Homo sapiens: one gene and its partner. The protein of the gene in region 1 purifies or fractionates together with the protein of each later gene. This does not show direct contact. Each region holds a gene or a part of one and is shown on either strand. Other genes may lie near its edges.

Region 1 (7,686 bases):
ACCTCTCCATGCCCCTGATCGAAGAGGAAATTGATGGGCTCTCTGGCCTCCTGTTCCCCTTCTATGATGCTGACACCCACATGCTCTACCTGGCTGGAAAGGTAGTAGGAGGTGGGGGAGGGCCCGGGGCAGCCTGTGGGAGAGCCCTACCCTCAATGCACCCCTGCACCTGCCCCACCCCCTGGAGAGTAGCCAGCCTAACCTTCCAAGTTCCTGGGCCTCACCTTTCCCATCCACACCTGCCCTCAAGTCTGACACCCATTCTTACTCAAGTGTCTGCTACCAAGAATTCCTTCAAAGGTGAGCTGGAGCGGGCTTTTACATTGGAATAAAGATCAGAGCCTGCAGTGTAGTCAGTGATGAATGATGGAATTTGAGATACCCGCCAGGAGATCCTTGGTGAATACAGCCTTGTTTGTCAGAAAGGCTGTCTACACACACACACTCACATCAGCCCATCCACCTCCACCTCTCCACCCGCAGTGAGTCCCCTGTGGTGCACCCACTAGGAGCCTAGAAGCCAGGTTTCCTTGGTTTTTTTAACTGCCCATGAGGCACAGGGGAGAGCTGTCTTCAGCTGGCTCCTGGGACCAGGCCCTGCTCTGCCCTCCCTACCTGCCACCTTCCTCAACTCCATCTCTCCTGACCCCAGGGTGATGGAAACATCCGGTACTACGAGATCAGCACTGAGAAGCCCTACCTGAGTTACCTCATGGAGTTCCGCTCCCCAGCCCCGCAGAAAGGCCTAGGTAAGTGGCCCCGAGGCTGCCACAGCTGGTGTGCTCATGGCACGGGAGGACATCTGGCCCATGGGTCACCCCCTCCCTTAAGTGGAAAATCAGACTCAGAAGGCCATAGCACATGGGCAAGTTGGAACAGAACCTGCAAGAGCTGGCCCTGCTGCAGCTGTCACTGCCCACTGGACCGGCGCTGTCACCCCACTGTGCTCACATCCACCATCAGCGGCAGCTTGCCAGCATGTGCTCTGCGTCTGCACTCCTGATCGCAGATGGGGAGCCTGAAGCCCACAGTGGCTATGATGATGGTGGGAAGTGGTCCCGTAACTAGAGGTCAGAGTGGGGTCTAGGCACAAGTCCCTTCCTGAGCCTCTAGGAAGCCGTGACTCCCAGATCCCAGCAGCAGCTCTGTCTGCCTGATAGGGCAGGAAGAAGTTCCAGGTGTTCCCGTGACTGCAGCCCCAAGCTCCCTAGGCTCTCAGGCAGAAACCCAGAGAGGGCTCTGGGATTGACAGGGTGTAGTGAGTGAGACCCCACATTCTCCCACCACTAAAAGTCTTACAACCAATTTTCCTTCCTTTCAACTAACCTGGTAATGCATATGATTCAGCAATTCTATATTTCGGGTCCAAATCACCCAATGAAACACCTATTTTCAGGGACCTCCCGTTCCCACCTCTGCGGGTGATCCTCTTTGGAGCTTGAGTCTAGCTTGCTTTCCCTGTGGGTCTGGTATTATGGACAGGGCCTGAGGGCCAGCTTCAGGAACATCGGGGCTGAAAGGGCCTGAGAGCCCACTCCAGTGACCAACAGCAAAATGGAAACCAAAAGATGTCCGAAGTCCTAATCACCATTCCATCAACTTTACTCTTCCCCAACTCTGTCATCCCCACCTCCTTCACTGTCACTCCTGCATCAAATAGTATAAAAATCAGCCTGGACTTTGGAGTCAGACCTGGGTTTACATTCTGGCTCAGCTGTGCACTTAATCCCTCTAAGTCTCAGTTTCCTCATCTGTAAAATGTGGATAATCAAACCTTCCTTGAATGGCTAATGTAAGGCTTAGAGACCACATGTGCAAGGCACCTGGCAGAGCACTTGACTCCTCCTGCTCCTTCACATAGTTGTTCAACAAACAGTTATTGACCTCCAGCTGTGTACCAGACCCTGCGCGAAGTCCAGTGGCAAATAAAACAGAACATGGCCTTACTCTCATGGAGATCACATTCCACTGAGCAGGAGACAGGCAATAAACAAATAAGAAAAATATTGGATGGGAATGAGTTCTAGGCAGAGAGTCAAATGGTGTGCTAGAACAGAAAGTGACTGGGGGCTACTTCACCCCGGTGGTCAGGGAAGGCCTCTCTGTGATGATGGTATTTTAAGTTGAGCTCTGAAAGATGGGAAGGAGAAAGAGCAGTCCCAGCAGGGGGAATGGTTAGTGCAAAGCCTCTGTGGCCAGAATGAGCCTGGCATGTTCTAGGAGCAGAAGGGAGGTCAGTGTGGCTGAGCGTGGTGTAGACTCTGTGATGTAGCAGGAGATGGGGGGAGGATGTTAGGAGACCATCGGAGAGGGGGGCAGGGGCTAAATCCATGGGATGCATTAGCCTGGGAAAGGAGTTTGCATTTGATAAGGAAATCATTATGGGGAGGGTTCTTTTTCTTGAGTGGGACATGAGACAACATGATGGGATCCGAAATGTTAGTTAAGATTGCTCTGGCAGCCAGGTGTGGTGGCTCAAGCCTGTAATCCTAGCAGTTTGGGAGGCCGAGGCAGGTGGATCACCTGAGGTCAGGAGTTCGAGACCAGTCTGGCCAATATGGTGAAACCCTGTCTCTAAACCCTGTCACCAAAAATACAAAAAGTACCTGGGTGTGGTGATACACCCCTGTAATCCCAGCTACTTGGGAGGCTAAGGCAGGAGAATCGCTTGAACCCGGGAGGCAGAGGTTGCGGTGAGCTAAGATCACACCACTGCACTCCAACCTGGGCAACAGAGCCAGACTCTGTCAAAAAAAAAAAAAAAGATTTCTCTGGCTTCAGTAGAGAGAATGGATTTGGGAGGGGCAGGAGGAAGACAGGGAAACCAGTTAGGAAGAAGTTGCAGACTTTTAGGCAAGAGAGAATAATAGGTGGGGAGAAGGAAGACGGGGAGAACAGTGTGAATCCAGATGTTTAGAAAGTAATGTCAGCAGGACTTGCTAAGGTATCGGATATGGAGGGGTGGAGAGGAAAGAAGCAGGAAGGGCTCAGAATGACTCACTTCATCCTCATCCTCATCCTCCTCACCTGTGACCACTATTGAGCATTTGCTGTGATGTAGGCACTTCTTGTAGACTCAGAAAAGTTAAGCAACTCACCTGAGGCAGGTCTTATCTGCTAAGTAGCAGAAGAAGAACTCAGACCGAATCTGCTGGCTCTTAATCCCATTTGGGAAACCATTTCACCCCTTACCTCCAGCTCCTGGAATTCCTTTATGTGGAAGAGCAGGCTTCCAGCCCAGAGGAGGAGAGGCAGAGCCTTAACTCATATTCACAATACAGGGAAAGAAATGAATGTGGTCTGTGCTCGTCACGGTGCCAGGCAGTTAATGAGTATCTTGGAACATATTCTGCTGATCACCTCAGGTAGGGCCATTGTTGTCCTCCTCGAACCAGCCAAGGAACTGGAAGCTCAGAGAGTTGTAACTTGCCAAAGGACTCCTAGATGGAAAGGGGGCAGAGTGAGGACTCAAACCCCGTTGGTCCACCCCTAGATAGAGCTGTGCTCCTAGCACCACCACACTGCCCCTCATCCCCATGATAGACGTTCAGCAGAGGCAGCTGTTAGGGACATGTGGTAAGTGAACCCACACAGGAAACATGGGCACACATTGTTGGTTCTAGGAGACATAGAACAGAACAGCAATCTTAGGCTGCGTCCAGACCTCTAGGGTGTATGGGGAATGGCCTCTCCCTCCTTTCTCTCTCAGGACTGGAGACACAGGAGGCTTAGGGATGACTGTTCATTTCAGAGGGTAATGGGCTCTGTGGCCCTGCCCCTGCTGTGCTCTGTGACCTTGGGTAACCCCTTGCCCTCTGACCCTCTCTGGACCCTCATCTAGAAAAGGAGTGGGCTAGATTCAAATGTTTCTGCAGTTTCTTCCAATTCTAAAGGGTCCAATTCTAAAGCACGCACTGTGGTGAGGCAGGTCTGGCCCAAGGAGCTTGAGAAGTGACCACCCAGAGACAGAGACTGATTGAAGGCGCCCCGGTCTACCCCCTGCCCTCTGCATGGGCCGTTGCCTCCAAACCTAAGTACATTCCTCAGCCTTTCCCCTGGCCCAGAACATCATGGGGTGATGTCACTGAGACGCAGTTTCTGGGACCCCATGGAGCCACATGTGTGCCTGTTACAGGGGTCATGCCCAAGCACGGGCTGGATGTGTCAGCCTGCGAGGTGTTCCGCTTCTACAAGCTGGTGACTCTCAAGGGCCTGATCGAGCCCATCTCCATGATCGTGCCCCGGAGGGTAAGTGGGGCTGGGCTGGGCTCCAGGAGGGGGGCCTGCATCGCCTCTTAGCCTGCTCACCACTGACCATGACCCTGGAGAAACCCAGGTGAGAGATGTGCTGTGAACTGGGGTCTTCAAACCTAATTTGGGGTGAGGGGCATTCTCAGATGGGGACAGTTGGGTTTGCTCATGAGTGCAGTCAGGTAGTTCCAGGAGGGAGACACAGTGCAAAGGCATAGAGGCAGGAGAGCAGGTAGAGTGACTGGAGATCAGTAAGAAGAGTCTGACTGAAGAGTAGGGGCTTTCCCAGCAGCCCCCCATGTGTCCTCTCTTCTGCTCCTCCCACTGTAGTCAGATTCCTACCAGGAAGACATTTACCCAATGACACCAGGCACGGAGCCAGCACTGACCCCGGATGAATGGCTGGGAGGCATCAACCGAGGTACCACAGCGGGGGGCTCCACAGAGCACAGGCGGCTGCAGCCTTTGCCTTCAGCGCAGCTCACCCCAGTTCTCCTTGTCTGTCCCCCTGTTTGAACTTCCCTCCCACCCAGCCTGCTGGACCATCACCTGACAGTCCATGGGATCGTCAGTGAGAGCGTTTCCCTTGCCTTCTTTAGATCCCGTGCTGATGTCTTTGAAAGAAGGCTATAAGAAGTCCTCAAAAATGGTATTTAAGGCTCCCATCAAAGAAAAGAAGAGTGTTGTGGTCAACGGAATAGATTTATTAGAAAATGTCCCACCCAGGACAGAGAATGAGGTAAGGAATGTAAGTTATTACCTCCACAGGCCCTGGAAGAGCAAGACCTTTACATTTCAATTATGGGCTTCAGGCCTTTAAGCCAGTTCCATTCTGAGACATTTTTCTTTCTGTGACAAATGCCATAAGTAGCCTGATATTGGCTTCTGATGCTTCTGACCCCAATAAATAGAAGCTGGGATGTCTGGAGATATCGGTTCCCCACACCACCCCCACGCCTCAAATTCACTAACCCACAGTTATGCATCTCCTCATGAACTCATTTCAGAACGTTGCTGTCATTTGGAGTTCCAGGAGTTATAAATTCCTGACTAACAGGGGCAAGCCCGGCCTCGTGTATCACAGCCCTGCCTCCCTCGCTGGCGTTGCAGCAGTGCTGGAGTCTGACACTTCCAGTCTTTGTGGAAGAGACTGGGTGTTTATGAAGGTGCTCTCTGTACCACTTGGAATGGGAGCAAGCTCTTTTGGGGCAGCTCGGCTGGGCCTTGTCCATGTCCCCCAGCGGTATTTCGTTCCAGCCCACACCCCCATTCCCTGATGCCAACATGGTTTAGCTCAGCTGGGATTCACAGGATGCCTACTGTGTGCCAGACATAAGGCCTGATACAACTGAAATGGAGATGGCTGCATGACCCCACCTGCATTTGAATCCTGGCTCTGCCATTTCCTGGCTGTGACTGAGCAAGTCTACTGACCTTTATAAGTCCATTTCCTTGTGGTAAAATAGGGATATGGAAAGCTGTGAGCATTAAAGAGATAATTCATAAGTGTCTAGCACTCTTCCTGGCTCATATTAAGTGCTCAGAGAAAAAGGTCACCTGTATTAGCTACCTACTGCTGTGTAACAAATTACCCTAGAACTTAATGGCCTAAACCCACAAATGCTTATTAGCTCACAGTTTCTTTGCATGCCCGTGGCTGAAGGTCTCTCATGAGGGTACAGTTACACTGTCCACTGGGGCTGGAATCACATCTGAAGGCTCAACTTCCAAGTTCACTCATGTGGTTGCTGCTAGGACTCATGTCCTCAGGGGCTATTGGAGTGAGGGCCTCAGTTTCTCCTTGGGCTGTTGGCCAGAGCTTCCCTCAGGTCCCTGCCACGTGGACTCCTCCATAAGGCAGCTCACAACAGGGTATGTGAGCAGAAGAGCAAGAGAGGGCACCCAAGATGGAAGCTACAGTCTTTCTGTCACCTAATCTTGGAAATGGTATCCCACCACTTCTGCCCTATTCTGTTCATTTGAAGCAAGCTATTAGGGCCAGCCCATGCTTGAGGAGAGGGGATAAAATGGGAGCCATCTTAAACTAGACAGTCTATACCACCAACTTATGCTATCACTATTTTTTGTTTTGAGACAGAGTCTCACTCTGTTGCCCAGCCTGGAGCTCAGTGGCACAATCTCAGCTCACTGCAACCTATGCAGGTTCAAGCGATTGTCCTGCCCTAGCCTCCCAAGTAGCTGGGATTACAGGTGTGCACCACCACACCCAGCTAATTTTTGTATTTTTGGTAGAGACAGGGTTTCACCATGTTTGCCAGGCTGGTCTTGAACTCCTGACCTTAGGTGATCCACCTGCCTCGGCCTCCCAAAGTGCTGGGATTACAGATGTGAGCCACCACACCTGGCCCACTAATCACTATTATTAATAAAAATAAGACCCTTCTTGACCTCTGGGACCTCACAGTCTTAAGGGGGAGATTGGCAGGTAACTTGATAATTGCCATAAAATATGCTTGTATGCCATTGTAGAGGGATATTCAGGGCTAGATGAAATGATGTGATAAATGGGATTTGCTTTAAAATAACCCCTGAGGAAAGTGGTGCAGTGTAGGTGGGTGGCAGTAGAGGCGAAGTAAGAATGGTCATACGGGCTGGGCGCCGTAGCTCATGCCTGTAATCCCAGCACGTTGAGAGGCCAAGGCGGGTGGATCACCTGAGGTCAGGAGTTTGAGACCAGCCTGGTCAACATGGTGAAACCCTGTCTCTACTAAAAATACAAAAATTAGCCAGGCGTGGTGGTGCGCGCCTGTAATCCCAGCTGCTCAAGTGGCTGAGGCAGGAGAATCACTTGAACCCAGGAGGCAGAGACTAAAGCTGAGTGATGGGTACTTGGGGGTTCATGGTGCTATACTTTCTATTAATATAGATATATAACATTTTTCATTTAAAAAATTTTTAAGTGTTTTCTTGTATTTATTTATTTATGTTTTAGAGACAGAGTCCTGCCCTGTCTCCCAGACTGCAGTGCTGTGGCACGATCATAGCTCACTATAACCTCAATCTCCGAGGCTCAAGCAATAATCCCACCTTAGACTTCTGAGTAGCTGGAACTAGCGGCGTGTACCACCATACCCAACTAATTTGTTTTTAAACATTTTTGTAGAGACAGGGTCTTACTATATTGCACAGGCTGGTCTTAAACTCCTGGGCTCAAACAGTCCTCCCACTTTCGCCTCCCAATGTGCTGGGATTACAGTCATGAGACACTGCGCCCAGCTATTTTCTTGTTTTTAAAAGAACTCTACTCTTTGAAGATAGAGACACAGGGGTCATTGTGATAGCCCAGGAGGGCAATAACAAGGGCCTGAGCTCAGTTCTGGCACTGGGTCTGGAGAAGGCAGGGTTGAATAGTAGTTAAATCAAGCAATATTTCGCTGTAGACTTGCCTATGGAATCAGAATTGAGAACCTGGAG
Region 2 (3,997 bases), on another chromosome or scaffold:
CCCTCCCACCCCAGCAGTCTATTGTCTGTTGAGGAAGCCCAAGTGCACGTGACTGAGCCCAAGGGACGAATGGATACAGTGGACTCGGAGATGCATTAAGGACCCAGGACAGGGCATCTGGACATGGCTGTGTGAATGTTTGGCTCGCTCTGTTCCAGCGGCTCTCCCAGAAGTTGGGAGGGGTGAAGATCCCCTTGGGCTGTCCGCTCTTGGGTCCATGGCTTGAAGAAGAATCCCCTTCTGCTCACTATGAACATGGCTTATGACCTCGCAGAGAGCAAAGATAAGGAGACCCAGAGCCAGGAAAAGGTCTCAGCCCCCAGGATCCTCTCCACCTTCCCATCCTCCCTCAGCTGAACATGGTAGCCTCAGAAGGAAAGGTACATTGGCATTTTGTGCTTTCGTATCTGGGTGTTGGGGGAATGGTGAGAAGTCACACTGCATTGGGCTTTCTGGTGGGGTCTAGACCAGAGGGTGGGTAGGGAAAAAGAAGGGCTGGGTAAAGAGGATACATCAAGAATCTAGGGCTGGCCAGATGCAACGGCTCATGGCTGCAATCCCAGCACTTTGGGAGGGCAAGACTGGTGGATCACTTGAGCCCAGGAGTTCAAGACCCTGGGCTACATAGTGAGACCCTAACTCTACAAAAAAAAAAAGGGAAGAAGAAGAATCTAAGGGCTTTCCAGTGGTTCCATGCCTCAGTCTTTGTCCCTCAACTGCTGCAACTGCAGTTGAGGGACAAAGATAGCAACATCTTTTATCTTACACCCTGTCCCCTTCTCCTTTCACCAGACCCCCTCCTCCAATGGCTGGGGCCAACCGATCTCTTCCATATCACTTCACCCCACCTACCCCCACTACAGCCTCCCCTTCCCTCTGCCAAGACAGCAGCCTCGGTGATATAACAAAACCTTTATTCTCAGAAAACAGGAAAAACAAAATTAAAAAACAAAACCAATAATTTCTATCTGGCCCCTGCCCCAGCCCTCCCACCCACCCACATATCCTCCTTTTGGGGGGACCATGATGCATGCATAGGGATGGGAGCTGAAGGAAACTGTGTTCCTTGGGCAGAAAAAAGTCCTTGGGTCTAGGTGTTCTCCTCCAAGTTGATATCCCTCCCAGCCTTGCCCACCCTCCAGACACACCAAGAAGGAGGAATTCTGGAGCAGTGCCAGAAGGACTGCCCTGAAGCTCCTTGGGGAATAGGCGGCTGAGTCAGCACCACCCCCATGGTTTTCACCAGTTACAGCTCATCTTCATCCAGCTTGGCAAGTCTGGCTTGGCAGGGAGGGGTTTTTGGAGTTGGAGAGACTGGAGGAGAGTCATGGGGAGCCTGGGGGATGTCACCAAGGGCCTGAAGAAAAGATTCAAGTCAGAGGATCAAAAAGGCCAGAAATCTACCCTCACTTCTCTCTTTTCAGTTTAAGTCCCTAGCCAAGCCACCTCCTCTTGCTAGATATCTTAGACTGTCTGAGACTATCAGCTTCTCCAGAGTTAAAATAGAGGGGAGAAGCGTAAGGGATGGGAAGTAGGAAGGACCAGATAAAAGGAAGGAATGATATGGGGAGGGAACTTGGGGTCCCAGAACAAGAGAGGCTCTCCCCTTTTTATCCCTACAATGAGGGAGCTCTATTCGTCATACCTGTTTATCCAGTGGCAAGAGGGCTCTGGCCACCTCCCCTTTGGGTGACAGCAGCAGAGAGGGGAGAGAGCCATTGATGGGTGTGTGTGTGCTGCCCTGGGCCTGATCTCCAAGCTGAATTCTTCCAGGGCTCCCCACTCCAGGCCCTCTTGGCCGCCCCAGGCTGTTGGTCTGGCTCTCCCGTCTCTGGTACTCAATGGGTGACTGCAATGCTGGAGCAAAGAGAGGAACAGAAGGAGGGTTACCGCAGAGACAGGTCTGCTCCCTAGGGCCTGTATCATTCTCCCACTTTGCCCTCCCTCCCTGTCAGCCAATGTCAATTGCTTAGGGCTTTAGGGGATTCTATCAAATTTTGAGCTAGCAGTGGAAAAGGGGATGGGCCATGGTCAGAGGGTAGGTACTGGAGACTGGGCAGTGAGGGATTCAGGAGGTTAAGGGGCTGAGAGAGCACATCGGGAAGAAAGGATGAGAGCTTCACCGTTGAGGAAGTCCCGTTGGCTCTCCAAGATCTGAGCCACATGCTTGATCCAGGCCTGACTGATAGCAGGGTCTGCAGCCTGCAGGACATAGCGCTGGATCCCACCCTCTGGCCCTCTGGAGGTCAGTGCAAAGCGGCAAGGGTCACCTTGGAGGTTCCCCTCCAGTCCCAGGCAGCTCACCTGAATTGGCAGATAGGAGACAGCCCCCAGATTCCTCAGGCCCTCCCTGGCTCCTCTGAGACATCCTCTCAGAGGCCTCATGCCCTCTCTCTCTCCAAGCCCTCCCTCGTGGCCTTCTCCCCACCTTAATGCTGTTCTTGTATACATATCCAGGCTGTGTTCCACCTCTCACTCCTCCTCCCAGGGCTTCACTGAAGATGATGATTTGCTCAAAGAGGAAGACGCGCCTCTCTCGACCTCGGGAAGACAGCAGCCCTCCAGCCTCAGGCTCGGTGACCCAGAAAGTGTCCTGGCCCAAGAGCTTCCCCTGAGCAGTCAGTTTGCCCTGAAACCAAAAGGATAGTGGCCTTGGAAAAAGAACAAGAAAAAGGACAATTCTCTGCTCCTCCCTTCCTCGCCTGACATGCCCAACCAACCATGGGGTCAGCCCCAGGAGAAGACAACTCCCCATAAGGACCTCCTGAATGCTAGGGCTGGGGCAGAAGAGCATCGGGCCTCCAGTTTCTTGCCCTATCTCCGTACCTCAAATCCCCGCAATCTCCCCAGCGTCATCATATCGTTGCAGCGCTTGGGCACAAAGCACATGACCTCCACAGCTTGCTGGGACACAGGTGAGGGAGGCGCATTGTTGGGCGAAGAGAGTCATTATTGGGAAAGAGGCCTCCTCGGCCAGTTGCCTCTTCAGACGGTATCTCAACCCCAACCAGCCTCCCCCTAAAAACCAGACAGCTGTAAACCACCCAAGGGGCTGGGGGAACCCATGAGATACTAGGAGGATAAGGAGCACATGGTGTGTCCTGGAAGATCTGGGGTCCTCACCTCTAGGTCTGCAGTATCCATCCCAGCTCTATTGTAATACTTGAGAAAATCCTAAGACAGAGAGAAGAAATGCTCAGGGAGGTCACGAGGACACCCTTAGAAGCTCTCACATCCTCCCCTGAGGACACCAGTGAGGGCCCTCAGGAAGTCTGGGGGAGCCCTAAGAACCCTGGGGAGATGAATGAGGAAACAGCTGTGCCAGCCAGCTGTGCCCCCAGGAAAAAGGGGGTCCTGACCTTGAGCAGCAGCTGGTATTTCATGATCCGCTGCACAGGTTTGATGAGGAGGTCGTTCAGCTGCAGGCGGTGCCCCAGCTGCTGCCGGAGCTCCTGGGGACAGGGACAGGGTGGTTATGCAGCCTGGAAAGCCCCAGTTCTGTCCTCCTTCCCACCAAGACATCTCAGCTACTGACCTCAAAGTAGCTGTCCCCAAACTCTGACACCACATGCTCTGACTTGGGCTTATTCTGACAGTACACCACATACATATGCAGCCGGCGCTCCTAACAGGGGTAATGTTTAAGAGAGAGCAGGGTGGGCAAGGAGGGAGGACGCATCTCCAGAGAATCCCAGCCCATTCCTAAGCCCCGCCCCAGGCCCTGCCCCCTCAAGCCTCACGTGTTTGATGAATAGCTGAGCCAGCCAATCAGGATCTTTCAGACACCGTTGTAGCTCTTGCAAGAAATAGCTGGAGGGGTTGGTAGAGAAGCAGCAGGTCAAATACATTTCACAACCCCCACCTCGCCCACTCCCAGCAGTTTCGAGCTGTCTGCCCTGGTAGTGTGCCCTACAAAACTTCTCCAAACATTCCTTAAGTCGCAATGGGCTGATGTTAGGATACAGGACAACCAGATGAGGGCCCCTCTCCAGCACCT

Evidence for each region. The genes of interacting proteins can lie anywhere in the genome.
Region 2: the proteins of CORO2B (region 1) and ARHGEF25 purify together in Homo sapiens (affinity purification with mass spectrometry; 2 studies listed by BioGRID and IntAct, with this or other methods). This does not show direct contact.

What each region holds. Positions count from the first base shown.
Region 1 is NC_000015.10:68,714,563-68,722,248, forward strand, and holds part of CORO2B (coronin-2B), read left to right. Parts: coding exon 1-101; intron 102-652; coding exon 653-749; intron 750-4,135; coding exon 4,136-4,248; intron 4,249-4,581; coding exon 4,582-4,672; intron 4,673-4,850; coding exon 4,851-4,990; intron 4,991-7,686. UniProt on the Homo sapiens protein: May play a role in the reorganization of neuronal actin structure.
Region 2 is NC_000012.12:57,614,144-57,618,140, reverse strand, and holds the end of ARHGEF25 (rho guanine nucleotide exchange factor 25), read right to left. Parts: intron 3,811-3,997; coding exon 3,741-3,810; intron 3,626-3,740; coding exon 3,536-3,625; intron 3,453-3,535; coding exon 3,360-3,452; intron 3,175-3,359; coding exon 3,124-3,174; intron 2,905-3,123; coding exon 2,827-2,904; intron 2,630-2,826; coding exon 2,429-2,629; intron 2,305-2,428; coding exon 2,124-2,304; intron 1,858-2,123; coding exon 1,646-1,857; intron 1,358-1,645; coding exon 1,247-1,357; 3' UTR 896-1,246; downstream 1-895. UniProt on the Homo sapiens protein: May play a role in actin cytoskeleton reorganization in different tissues since its activation induces formation of actin stress fibers. It works as a guanine nucleotide exchange factor for Rho family of small GTPases.